Linked DNA regions of Homo sapiens. The protein of the gene in region 2 interacts with the protein of the main gene of each other region in a pairwise test. Each region holds a gene or a part of one and is shown on either strand. Other genes may lie near its edges. The genes, in order: EBAG9 and SLC35B4.

Region 1 (7,304 bases), on a different chromosome or scaffold from region 2:
GGTAATCTCTCTGATGTTTATATTTTTAAATAACATTGTATCTCTATCTTTCATGTGTACAATGAGACCTTGATCTTAGTATCTAAGGTAATTTACAATCTCATAAAAGGTTAGGATTGGTAAAACTCCAGATTAACTTCTATCAAACTGCTAAACCTGTTTCAAAGTTACAAAAATATAAATACTATGTTAAACTCATTTAGATTTTATTCCTCTGCTTTAAAGAAAACAGAAATACAACAAAACCCTTCCCTAGAACCATTAACATACTTACAGACTGATGAATAAAAGGCAGATCTTGTGTAGCTGCTAATCTACTAGAGAAACCTGTGCTCCCATCTGGGATGCCAAAATTCAATGGTTCTCTCTTCTTAATAACAATCTGAAAGATTAATTGAAAAAGAATTATAGGGATCTTTTACAAATCACTACATAAAAATAGACAACCAAAACATTTTCTAATTACTTAAAATATTTCTTCTTAAAATTTATAATGTAAAAACTAAAAAAAAAGTCTGTAAATACCAATTTCCCAGGGAATTGTTGTACAAATCAGTTACATACTAAGAAAAATTGTATTTCACTTTTAAAAATTAATACAGGCCCATTTTCTTTCTTTCTATCCTACTTTCCCCAGACCTCAAAATATAATCAATCACTTTTAGTTACTGTATTAAATAACAACAGGTATCATATCCTGCCAATAGTATTAACAACTCTCTCAGCATGTGAGATACCTATGAATACATTAACTCATTCAGGCCAGTAGCATCAAAATACACTTATATGATATGTTGGTAGCCTCATTTAAAGCATTTCCATTCTAACTAATTTAATAAGGCACTATAGCAATATACTAGGTTCCTACTGAGAGCAGCAGTATACTTCCACAATGCAAGGTATTCATCTATTAAGAAACTCACTTAAAGGATCCTTTAAAAATACACAATTTAATGTGTTTTAGCATTGAGACATTTGGACAACTCAACAACAAAGAATGTAAATGTTATCAACCTAGACAATGTAAATATAAATGTATAGCTGAAATCAGCTGAGAGAAAGAAGGTGAGGAACAACTGTATTAGAAAATGTGAAATAATGTCCTAATTTTTATGAAGTGTGTATGTGTGTGTGTTTATATATATATATGATAAAAATATTTTCTATGTTTGAATAAGAAAGTGAACTTTAAGTGTGTTTTTCTGATATAGCAGAGTGATTAGTGAGGTAGACTGGAATAAAGGAGAGGGAATGGTAGTAAGAAATAAATCTTCATTTACCATAGTATGAATGTCAGTGGACAATGTCTGTTACTGGTAAACAAGAAATGGCAATATAACCATATAGATAGATACGATGACAAACACTTGAAGAAATCCAAACAGAAAATTATTGAGTGGCTGTTTCTTGGAAGAACTGGCTAAGAGTGATGGGTCAGAAGTCTCACTTTTCATTATAAGTTCTTCTACAGTTTTTGATTTAAAAAAAGTACATGTACTATTTTGATAAATAAAAACGAAAATACTCAAGCATTCTGTTTTTTCCAGTAATTCCCTGCATCTCTAAATGATCTTCCATATTCAATTCAAAAGGGATTAAATAATGTATGGATGACTAACACAAACTCACAATTACTCTTAAGTTCTTAGAGTCCTGCATCAGTTTTATAATGGTTACAAACAATAAACTCTACCTATCAGTTTGTAGATATTACTGAAGTACAAACTTGTTAGAACTCTTATCCAATTCACCTTAGTCTCCATGGCAGAGACTGGAGTCTAGAATCTGACATATAGTAGGATTTCGATACATATATAAATATAATTTTAAAAGACTTGGGGTACAACTTACTAGAACTATGTCTAGGTCATTTGAACATATAAAATTCTTACTTAACATGACAGAAAACAAACAACTGATAATTAGAAATATGCTGATAGACTGGATTAAGAAAATGTGGCACATATACACCATAGAATACTATGCAGCCATAAAAAAGGATGAGTTCATGTCCTCCATAGGGACATGGATGAAGATGGAAACCATCATTCTCAGCAAACTATCGCAAGGACAAAAAACCAAACACTGCATGTTGTCACTCATAGGTGGGAACTGAACAATGAGAACACATGGACATAGGAAGGGGAACATCATACACTGGGGCCTGTTGTGGGGTTGGGGGAGAGGGGAGGGATAGCATTAGGGACATACCTAATGTTAAATGACGAGTTGATGGGTGCAGCACACCAACATGGCACATGTATACATATGTAACTAACCTGCATGTTGTGCACATGTACCCTAAAACTTAAAGTATTAAAAAAAAAAAAAGAAATAGGCTTTCTAATAAATGTGAATTGTATCACCTAATTTTAACTATAGGAATCTAAAAAGTAGTTTAATCTCCAAAAGCATAAATCTTAACATACTTTCTGAGTTTTCCTAATAGTTGGTGTCATGTCCTTAAAATAGTCAGGTTCCAGTTGTTCCAAAGAATTTTGTTGTGTTGCCACATTCCCATTCCCTCCTTCGATCTTTACACTGGTGGGTGCATCTTCATCCCAGGAAGTCCACTCTTCAACATCTGTCTAAATTTAATTGATCAACATTATCAGCCACAAAGGGGCAACTTAATGAACACATCATTGATGATTTATTAGAAAAATGGGCTTTCTAAAACACTGGTTTTCAAACTTTTTTAACCCACGGGAAAACATACATTTCATATCACAGATCAAAACTTGATCAAAAGTTCAAAAAATACAAGACATTCTGATATATTCTGTTCTATTTTATTCTATTATGTCCATCAAAAAACAAAAAACAAAGTAAAACGAAAGCAAATGCTCTGAAAACTGAACTGACATTAAAACTACAACTCACAGAAGGGCTGGACATTTTCACCCAAGCCTATCCAGATTGATCATCTGATAAAAAATACCAAGCTTCTCCACAGGATTTAAATAAGATGAAGTCTCAAAACATAGTATTCAAAATGTTCATGAAACAACCCAGAATTATTCAGCATATAAAAACAATACATCTAAATTTGCAAGGCAAGTTAATCAACAGATACCAACACCAAAATGATATGTTGGAATTCTCTAAGGCTTTAAAATAGCTATTATAAAAATGCTCCAACAAACAATAGCAAACACTTGAAACCAATGAAAACACAATAGAAAATGTCAACAAAGAAACAGAAGATAAAATGTAGAACCAAATAGAATTTTCAGACCAGATAAATTTAACAACACAACAAAAATTAATTTCTATTAATGATCTGCAATCCAGTTTTTAAAATATTGTTCTAGGACACTTATTCAATCTTTCAAAACAAAACAAAACAAAAGAACACACAAAAAAAACCTACCTGCTTAGGAACTGATGAATAATCAACTGTAGTTGGCAAAGTTATTTGGTCTCCACTTAATTTCCGTCCTCTGCCAGATCTGAAACAAAAATGAAATAATTTATTTCAAGAACCACCAAAACAAGCAAAGTAAAAGCACTATTATGTATGGTAATTGAAGGCTTATAAAACAAGATCTTTCTCAATTTTATGATTATTGATTTTAGTAACAGTTACTCACTAATTTATGGTAAAAAAAAGTCATAAATCAGACATCCTGTGAATGTTTTTTAAATCTTGGACAGAACAACATAACTGCTTTTTGGCTTAGGACTCAGAATTATAAACAAACTCAAGAGGAATATAAAGTCAAAAATAAAAATGCAAGACGGTTTCAGAGCATGCTCCTTGGAGTGCTGTGGGTTCTGTGGGTGAAGTTCTGGGCCACCTTTGCTGTTTTAAACAGGGTGGCTTGGCTTTTATGTTTTACACATGGGGTTTCTTGATAAGATTAACTATTAAGAAGTTTAAAAATCACTAGTTTGAACCAAATGGTAACTTACTTTTAAGGATTAGTAGGAAAAGTACCACATTCAACAGGACGTACTATAACTCAGTTGTTAAGAACATGGGCTGTGGAATCTGTGTAAACCACAGTTTTCAATGTTACTTCTATTATGTCTAGTTAGAATTACCTACTTTTCAGCCTCAACAGCCTCATCTATAAAATGCAGGTATTCAAACCCACTTTTGCAGGGTTGTTTGGATTTAATTAAGTGACATATTTAAAAACCCTAGACAGTGTGTGCCTGCTACATAGCACAACATACAAAAAATGGCAGGTAATAGAGATAATTAGTCATTTACTTCACTTCAAATAATCTATAAAAAAAAAAAGCATCAACTAAGAACTAAGAACGATAAAGTCAGCTATTTTTATTACAGATTCAAAGCTATATTTGTTTAAAGGGTGAATAGAAAAGTAATATAGTCCTTTATGAAATTTATGATACAAGCGTGTTTTTCCTTTCCATAGAGATGGGGTCCTGCTGTGTTGCCCAGGCTGGTCTTGAACTCCTGGCCTCAAGCTATCCTACCCCCTCGGCCTCCCAAAGCATTGGGATTACAGGCATGAGCTACCATGCCTAGCCAAGTCTGGTATTTTAAAATACATGGTCTAAGGTTCCTTCAGACACCAAAGAGAAGCTTATCCTAACATATGGTCAGTTTTCTTTAAAACTGAACATACAATCAATTCTAAATATGTATACATTTACAACAGAAATTTATAGTGCCAATAGGAATGTCCTTAATATTTTTACATCAAGAAAATTTCTTATCCTAGAAGTAATCTATATTTAATGAAAATTTTAAAAAATAGAAGTATAAGAAGAAAACATCTACATTTCATCACCACTGTTAACACAATGCTTCTTTTAACTTCCTGCCTTCTGGCAATTAATACCCATTTTTAATGTTGCTTTACCTGGTGAATTTCTGGCCATTCTCTTCCTCATTCTCTGGTAATTTGAACACTTAGTTTGCTCCTTTTTCTACTTCCCAAATCCTATCCTCTTGGGTGATTTCAAGTCAACCACCTAAATTTTCCATTTCTTTCTTCACTTCTGCCCCAGTGATCATCCAGAGATGATCATTTCACCCACTTGTTCTCTTGCAATACCCTGGATTTTTTTTTTTTTTTTAAATCCCAGACCACTCTACTTTTAGCAATAAGTTCAATTTAGCAGCTATCAAATGGTCATATAGCCAGAGACTGCAGTTCCTATCCTTCCTTGCAGCTAGGGGGCCATATGACTAAGCTCTGGAAAGCAGGCAGTGCAAAAATTGTTGTGTGTAACCTCTAAGTCATGTCTATATATATTAAAAAAAGAGCTGATTGCTGTCCATTTCCTCTTTTACTATACCCTCCTCTTAGTATGTAAGTAACTTTTTCACAGTACCCTTAGGCCACAGAAACACCTAACAATTCCACTGAATAAGGTAGTTACACCCAAAAAACTTAAGTATATCCTAACTGCTTAGTAGCCATTGTAAAAAATACACATTTAAAGAAAAAGTAATATTTTTATTTTATTCTTAAATAACCACAATCACTGAACTTATTAATGAAATTTGTGTGCCTGTTGAACACTGCACAGCTTCTTATGCCTTAGAATAAGACTGGAGACCATCATTCTTGTTTTCAGTTCTACATTAATTTTGGTGCAGTACTCGCTTTTAATTACAACCTAAAATCCTGGCTTTGCAATGAGATGTCACCAAAAATATAAGTAAACAAAAACTTATCTCAAACATTAAAGAACACCATCATAAAAAAATACTGCAGGATTTAATGTTGCAAATGTGAACTACTTTGAGTTGAGGTATTCAACAGATGCTATCACTATGTTTCACTGCAAAATTTAAAATATTCTATGGCATCCCTGTGAATTTCATGTAAAGCCCTGAGGTGCCTCAGCACACATTTTAGACATCATAGCTCTTGGGTATGATCGTGTGACAAAACAGAAGGAACTGAAGTCTACAGATGATGTCCTAAAGCAAATGACTTACCTGCTCTTGACTTCCTGCATATTCTAGAATGTTACTCAAACAGAAAAAAAAATTTTTTTTTTTTAGGATTTTTCTTAGGATTTTTTTTTAAATATAAAAACAACACTATTGTAGTATAGACAGAAATACCTATTCCGAATTTCACCTAACCACTTTAAAACATTCCCATAATGAAACGAATACATCAAAGTTCTGTGATGATTATAATAATGAAAGTTGGTCTGTCTATTCCTAAATAGTATTAAGCATGTTATTTTAGTGGAAAGTGTAAGAATTTGAATGAACAAAACAACTGAACCTCTATTTTCTAGATCTGAAGTAGAGAAAAAGTATCTAAAAATGACTAGGAATTAATGAATAAATACTGCAATCAAGATATTCAGCTTAAATATAACCTGTCCTGTCCACGAAATTTGAAGTTTTGAAGGTATCCAAAACCAGCGAGGAGATAAACAGGTTAGTTTGAACATAAAACTTATTTACCTGCATATTAATCTCTTTAGGAATGAGAATACTGTTGCTAGGCAGGTACAAAATTTAAATAACCGAAACTGGGTGATGGCCATGGTGGGAATCAAAACCTGTGGAAGAGGCACAAAACAAAAAATGCATTAAATTGATTTCAAAAGTCATACTCCTGTCCTGAAAAGACCTATTATGCACTAAGAAAAATCTAAGATATTTTTTACCTTTCTCTAGAAACTATAACACAGTAAATTTTAAAATTATAATTTAAATCATATTAACAAGTCAAAAACCAGGTTTTCGAGTTTTCAATGGTTGTAAGGATAAAACCCTTCATTCTGAGTTTTTGAAAATAATTTTACCTAAATCTATTAATACAAAAATCTACAATTCAAAAAATAAAAAAGTATAAAATAGAATATATTAAATCTCTGTGTACCTTTTAAAGTTTGAACCACATGAACATAATACTATTTAAAATACTTTAAATATTTTTAACTTGCAGATGAATATATTTCCTTATATCCATTTTATAGATGAGGAAATTGAATTAAGAGAGGTCAAATAACTTGACCAAAGTCACATAGCTAGTAAATTGAAAGTTACCATGGAGCTCATTTAGTCCAGTGGTTCACAAATCTGGGAATCTATTAAAGAAATGCCAATACCTAGGAGTACCTCTAGTAAGTCCATTAAATCATATATTCTGAGGGGCAAGGACTGGTCATAACCAATAAGACAAGCAGGGAGATAAAAACTACTCAATTGAAAAGGCAGCAGGAAACAAAGAAAAGAGAACAAATAACACATGGGACAAGCCAAAAACAAATAAGATGACAGACGTAAATCTAACCATATCAATAATCTCATTAAATGCAAATTGTATAGCATTCCAATTGAAAAGCAGAGATTG
Region 2 (4,403 bases):
TTCTCTGATGGATTTGAGCAACAGCAGTGGAGATAAATGTCCTAGAGTCACCAGGTCGCTTGGAGAAGTCATTTAAGCTGCCTCGGGTTTTTGTTACTTAAAATGTGGATATTATTTCTCCACCTAAATCACTGAGTTTACAGAGTAATAATGTGTTGCTCTGGACATTGACAGCTTTCTAGAGCCAGTAATGGGCTCTTCTGAAGGATGCTGAATTAGAAGTGAACCTATTCATAGGATCAAAAGCCACTTGCTTTGAAATATGTAGAGTTCCTCAGAATTGACGGTGCTAGAAATATCCAAGTGTTAAATAACCTTTTAAAAGCAACAAAAGCTACTTTTTTCTTACCACTTAATAGAAGAACCTGTCCCTAGAGGCGACTTCATTGCTATGGATCTGGAGTCTCTGAACTCTTAATAGGATGCAGCCTCACATACATAATGTCACCCATTTTATGTTGATGAAAACATTACAAGTTTTCTTCATTGGGTATGTGTTGATGTTCACAGACAGTACTTGGGCCCATTAGGTTTTCGCGTCTGGTCTTAGAGCATGTGTATTCATCTCAGCGTGAATACCTCAGCCAGTCTTATGAATAGGAGGCTATGTATGGGCAGGGAATAGATTAGATTAGAACACTCGCACAAGATGACCACATATAGAAGCAGAAAGCCCCAAATTCCCTGGGAACTGTTTTTTCTCTAGTAGCTGAATATAAGGAAATATGTCTAATGGACACCAGTTAATACTTTTTAAAACTACTCTTTAAAAAAAAAATACGTTCCCCTTGGTTAACTGATTTTTTAATCCAGGGTGGACATTTTTTCAACCTTTATTAAAAAGACAAATAAACTATTTTGTAGAAGATCAGACTCCTACTTAACTGGAAGAGAAATGTCTATTAAATGTCTCTCCTCTTTCTCTGGGTCAAGACCATGTAATTTTATGCTTCAGAGATGAAGATACTGTTTGTTTACAAAGAGTTTAGTTTTTAAGACATCCAAAACTCTATGCTAGAGCAAAAATCAAATAGCAAAGGACACTAGCCAGAAAATACAGTGTGTGTGTGTGCACCTGTGTGCCTGCTGAACAACTTGACAGTGTAACAGATAAGGTAACTGAAGATGGTGGATATTTGAATTGTATTAGCTTAATGTCTACATATCTTTGGCCAAAACTCTATTGTCATATTAGAAACATGTTATCTTTTTCATGTTTATTAGTAATTTATTTTTGATTCTTTGTTTTCTTTTTCGTCCAACTAAAACAACTGTAATGTACTTGATACATTTATATCAAGTTCTAAAGTATTTAGACAAATCCAAATACTTTGTTTTTAGTTTTTTCCTCCTTTCCATCCTGTTAACCACAGTGAAACGCTGCAGTATTTTGATTTGGTCAGTGCTACGGAGGAAGACCATGAAAGCTGAATTGGTCTGTGCCACCCAGAGTAAACCTCTTCTCTTCTTCTGGAAAGATGGCGTGATGTTTTTCAAGGATTCTAATAAATATCCCGCAGTCATCTCCTGAGCAGCTTTCCTCTGTTTCACTTCAGAACTCCTTCCCCCACTTTCTTCACTCCAGTTTCTTCACTTGCAGCGTTTTCTGCTAAGAAAGACTTATCATCTTGTATCTGTTTATGCCTCTCTTCTTTGGGGCCCCTGGATGTTTTTGTGGATTTTTACAGAGTATTTATATCTGCACAGCGTGTATTTTGTTATACATTCTTACAAGCATTGATATTGGGGGGTACATTCATAATAGTGAGAATATCTGGCAGAATGTGTGAATGCCATATCTGTAGATGACGATGAATGTGAAGGGTTAATGTAGAAATGTTTGTTTATTCTGTTACAGCTCAAAATGGAGGCTGAGAATCTCTACCACCATTCCCTTCTCTATTTGAGAATCTCTACCACCATTCCCTTCTCTATTTGGGAAACAATACTCTCTTATTTTGCTATTTTTACCTTCCCATTAACTGGCTTCACTCAACAGTGCCAGATACCTATGGAGAGGGGAAGTAAAACACCTTAGGTCAGGAATAATAAACCAATGAGTTAGCTCAGGGCCGGTGGACATGTTCACTGGTGGACCAGTTGGCATTGACCTAAACGGACAGAGAAATGCACATGGAGGAGAACTACGTTGAAATCAAGATCCTATGTCTGTTGTATTTTCTCTTTGCCTGGAGTAAATAGCATTATAAGTCATTCCACCCTTATTAGATAACCAAAGCATATTGGTCTCAATAGCTTTCTCCTGAAAAATGTGATTGAATCTTACCTGTAGCAGTTCACTCTTAAGGTTGAAAGAACTGTCAATATAGATAAAATCCATTCCTTATTATTATTGATTGGTGTGACATTTGAAAATGTGTCTAAACAATATTTGTAAGTAAAAGAACCAGTCATAAGCCTCAAATGTGTTCAGTGTGTACCAAGCTGGAATGGGAGACTGGCCCCTCTTGGCTTTAAAGTAGCATGTTGTCTTTTTCTAGCAGCTTCTTCCTAGTAGACATTCCAGGGATGGGAGGGGCCAGGGATCATGTCTTACTCATTTCTGTATCGCCAGCCCCTGGCATAGTGTCTGGCTTATGTTATGTGAATAAATGAATGCTTGCCAAGATCTCTTCTTCCCTCAAGTTTCTGGAAAACCTGAGGGTTCGTGATACCTGTTCCCACTCCTCATCAGCGGGTTGGCAAGAAAGCAAATAAGGGGAAACATTTTTAACATTCCAAGCAAGAGAAGGAAGAACGACTATTGGGAGGAGGTACACCAGAGATTGCTCAGTGTGCAGCCTGCTACCTCACTTTTGGCTCTGGATTGCCTGGTGGTAGAAGGGAAGAGTATTATGTAGTTAGCACCTTACATATTTGATGCTCAGGAAGAAAGTGCAAGAAGATCCCTAATAGAACATTAAAGATTCTTAAAAGTTTTTGAAGTAGGCTGCTTGGGGTGACCAGCCCCACCCTTACATCTCCATAGTTGGTACAGTTAGCTTGTAGCAGCTGAAGCTGATGCCTGGAGATCACTGTCTGTTGGTCTGATCTCAGTATCATACTGAGACACCTCCCCTGAGCCTTACCTACTTAAATTGGTAACCGTCCTACCAAAATTTGTCAATTTTAATCAAGTGAGGCAAGTTGCAAGGGAGCCAGAGATACGTGAAAAAAGAAAAGCAGAAATACTGATACTTTCTAAGAAAGAAGTTGTAATAATTTCTTTGGCACATTGACTTACTGATATCTTTTGAAATGCATAGATGACTCTTGTGAACCAAAGAGAGCAGTAGTGGTTATTCCCCGGCGCAATAAAAATGCCTTTGTGTATCACTTGCGATTGCCAGTCATTTCTGTGCCAGTTGCTTTCATTCCAGAGAATGGCCTCATTCTCCAAAAAAAGATGATGATTTTAGAAGTAGGATTTCCTAACAAATTATGTGGTGGGGAGGGACGGCGGGGATTTTATTCATCCCGTCTGAGCTCTTCATACAGTATTACCATTAGGTTTTAAGAACAAAGATGGGGGAGGAGGGAGTAGAAAGCTGAGAGTACGTAGAACAGCTACAAGACATTAGTGGGTATTCAGATTTTGAGCTGTGTAAATATCAAACATCGGCTTCCAGCCTTAAGAGTTATTTGAGCAGAGAGTTAAGGAGGAATGGGAGATTTTGTGAATAAAATGTTTTGCCAAACTGAATGAGTCTTTTTGCCATTATTTCTTATAGAGAGCTATTTTTTACCTTCTGAAACAACTCATCAGACATCTGGGGTTTATCTTGAATTGTACCATCATTGTTTCTTAATAAAAGTGATAAATTTCTTGCAGGTGTTTCCAATCACCATTACCTTTGAAGTGCCTGTGTGCAGTTTCAAAAGCTCTCCAATTTTTACCTTGTATAGTGGTGGTGGCATATTTTACTACAAACGATTGTCAGCAATCTCTCTTCCTAATGCCTCGCAGCTGGATCAGTAATAAACCACTTCTCAGGCTGGTTTCTGCGCCAGAAATTAGTTTACAGAGGATCAGCCTACTTTTGGAAGTTTTAGAGGTTTGTGGCAGTACATTCTATAGCAAATCTCTCAAAACCTCTTTGCCTTGATAGAAATACACTGACTTTTGTCAGCTGCAGTGACCAGCTCTCTTTGTCTTTGATATGTTGCTTTTAAATAAACCTCAGCTGGAAAGTAACTCTTCAAAGCAGTTTACCTCACCCAGCCTACTTTTAATCATGTTATGCAGTAGCCCCCAGGTACAGAACACAAAAAGAAAAACAAATGAGAAATTTTGCACTAAATATAGCATAGTTAAAATTCATCTCTTTAAAAATGGCATTACTGTTTTATCAGGACAGGGCTGGATGTTCTTAAACAGCCCTGGGCCTGTCATTACACGCAGG

Evidence for each region.
Region 1: the proteins of SLC35B4 (region 2) and EBAG9 interact in binary tests that used the Homo sapiens proteins (3 or more experiments, as listed by UniProt).

The regions. Positions count from the first base shown.
Region 1 is NC_000008.11:109,550,013-109,557,316, reverse strand, and holds part of EBAG9 (receptor-binding cancer antigen expressed on SiSo cells), read right to left. Parts: intron 6,508-7,304; 5' UTR 6,493-6,507; coding exon 6,410-6,492; intron 3,453-6,409; coding exon 3,374-3,452; intron 2,589-3,373; coding exon 2,430-2,588; intron 383-2,429; coding exon 275-382; intron 1-274. UniProt on the Homo sapiens protein: May participate in suppression of cell proliferation and induces apoptotic cell death through activation of interleukin-1-beta converting enzyme (ICE)-like proteases.
Region 2 is NC_000007.14:134,288,632-134,293,034, reverse strand, and holds the end of SLC35B4 (nucleotide sugar transporter SLC35B4), read left to right. Parts: 3' UTR 1-3,703; downstream 3,704-4,403. UniProt on the Homo sapiens protein: Antiporter that transports nucleotide sugars across the endoplasmic reticulum (ER) membrane in exchange for another nucleotide sugar.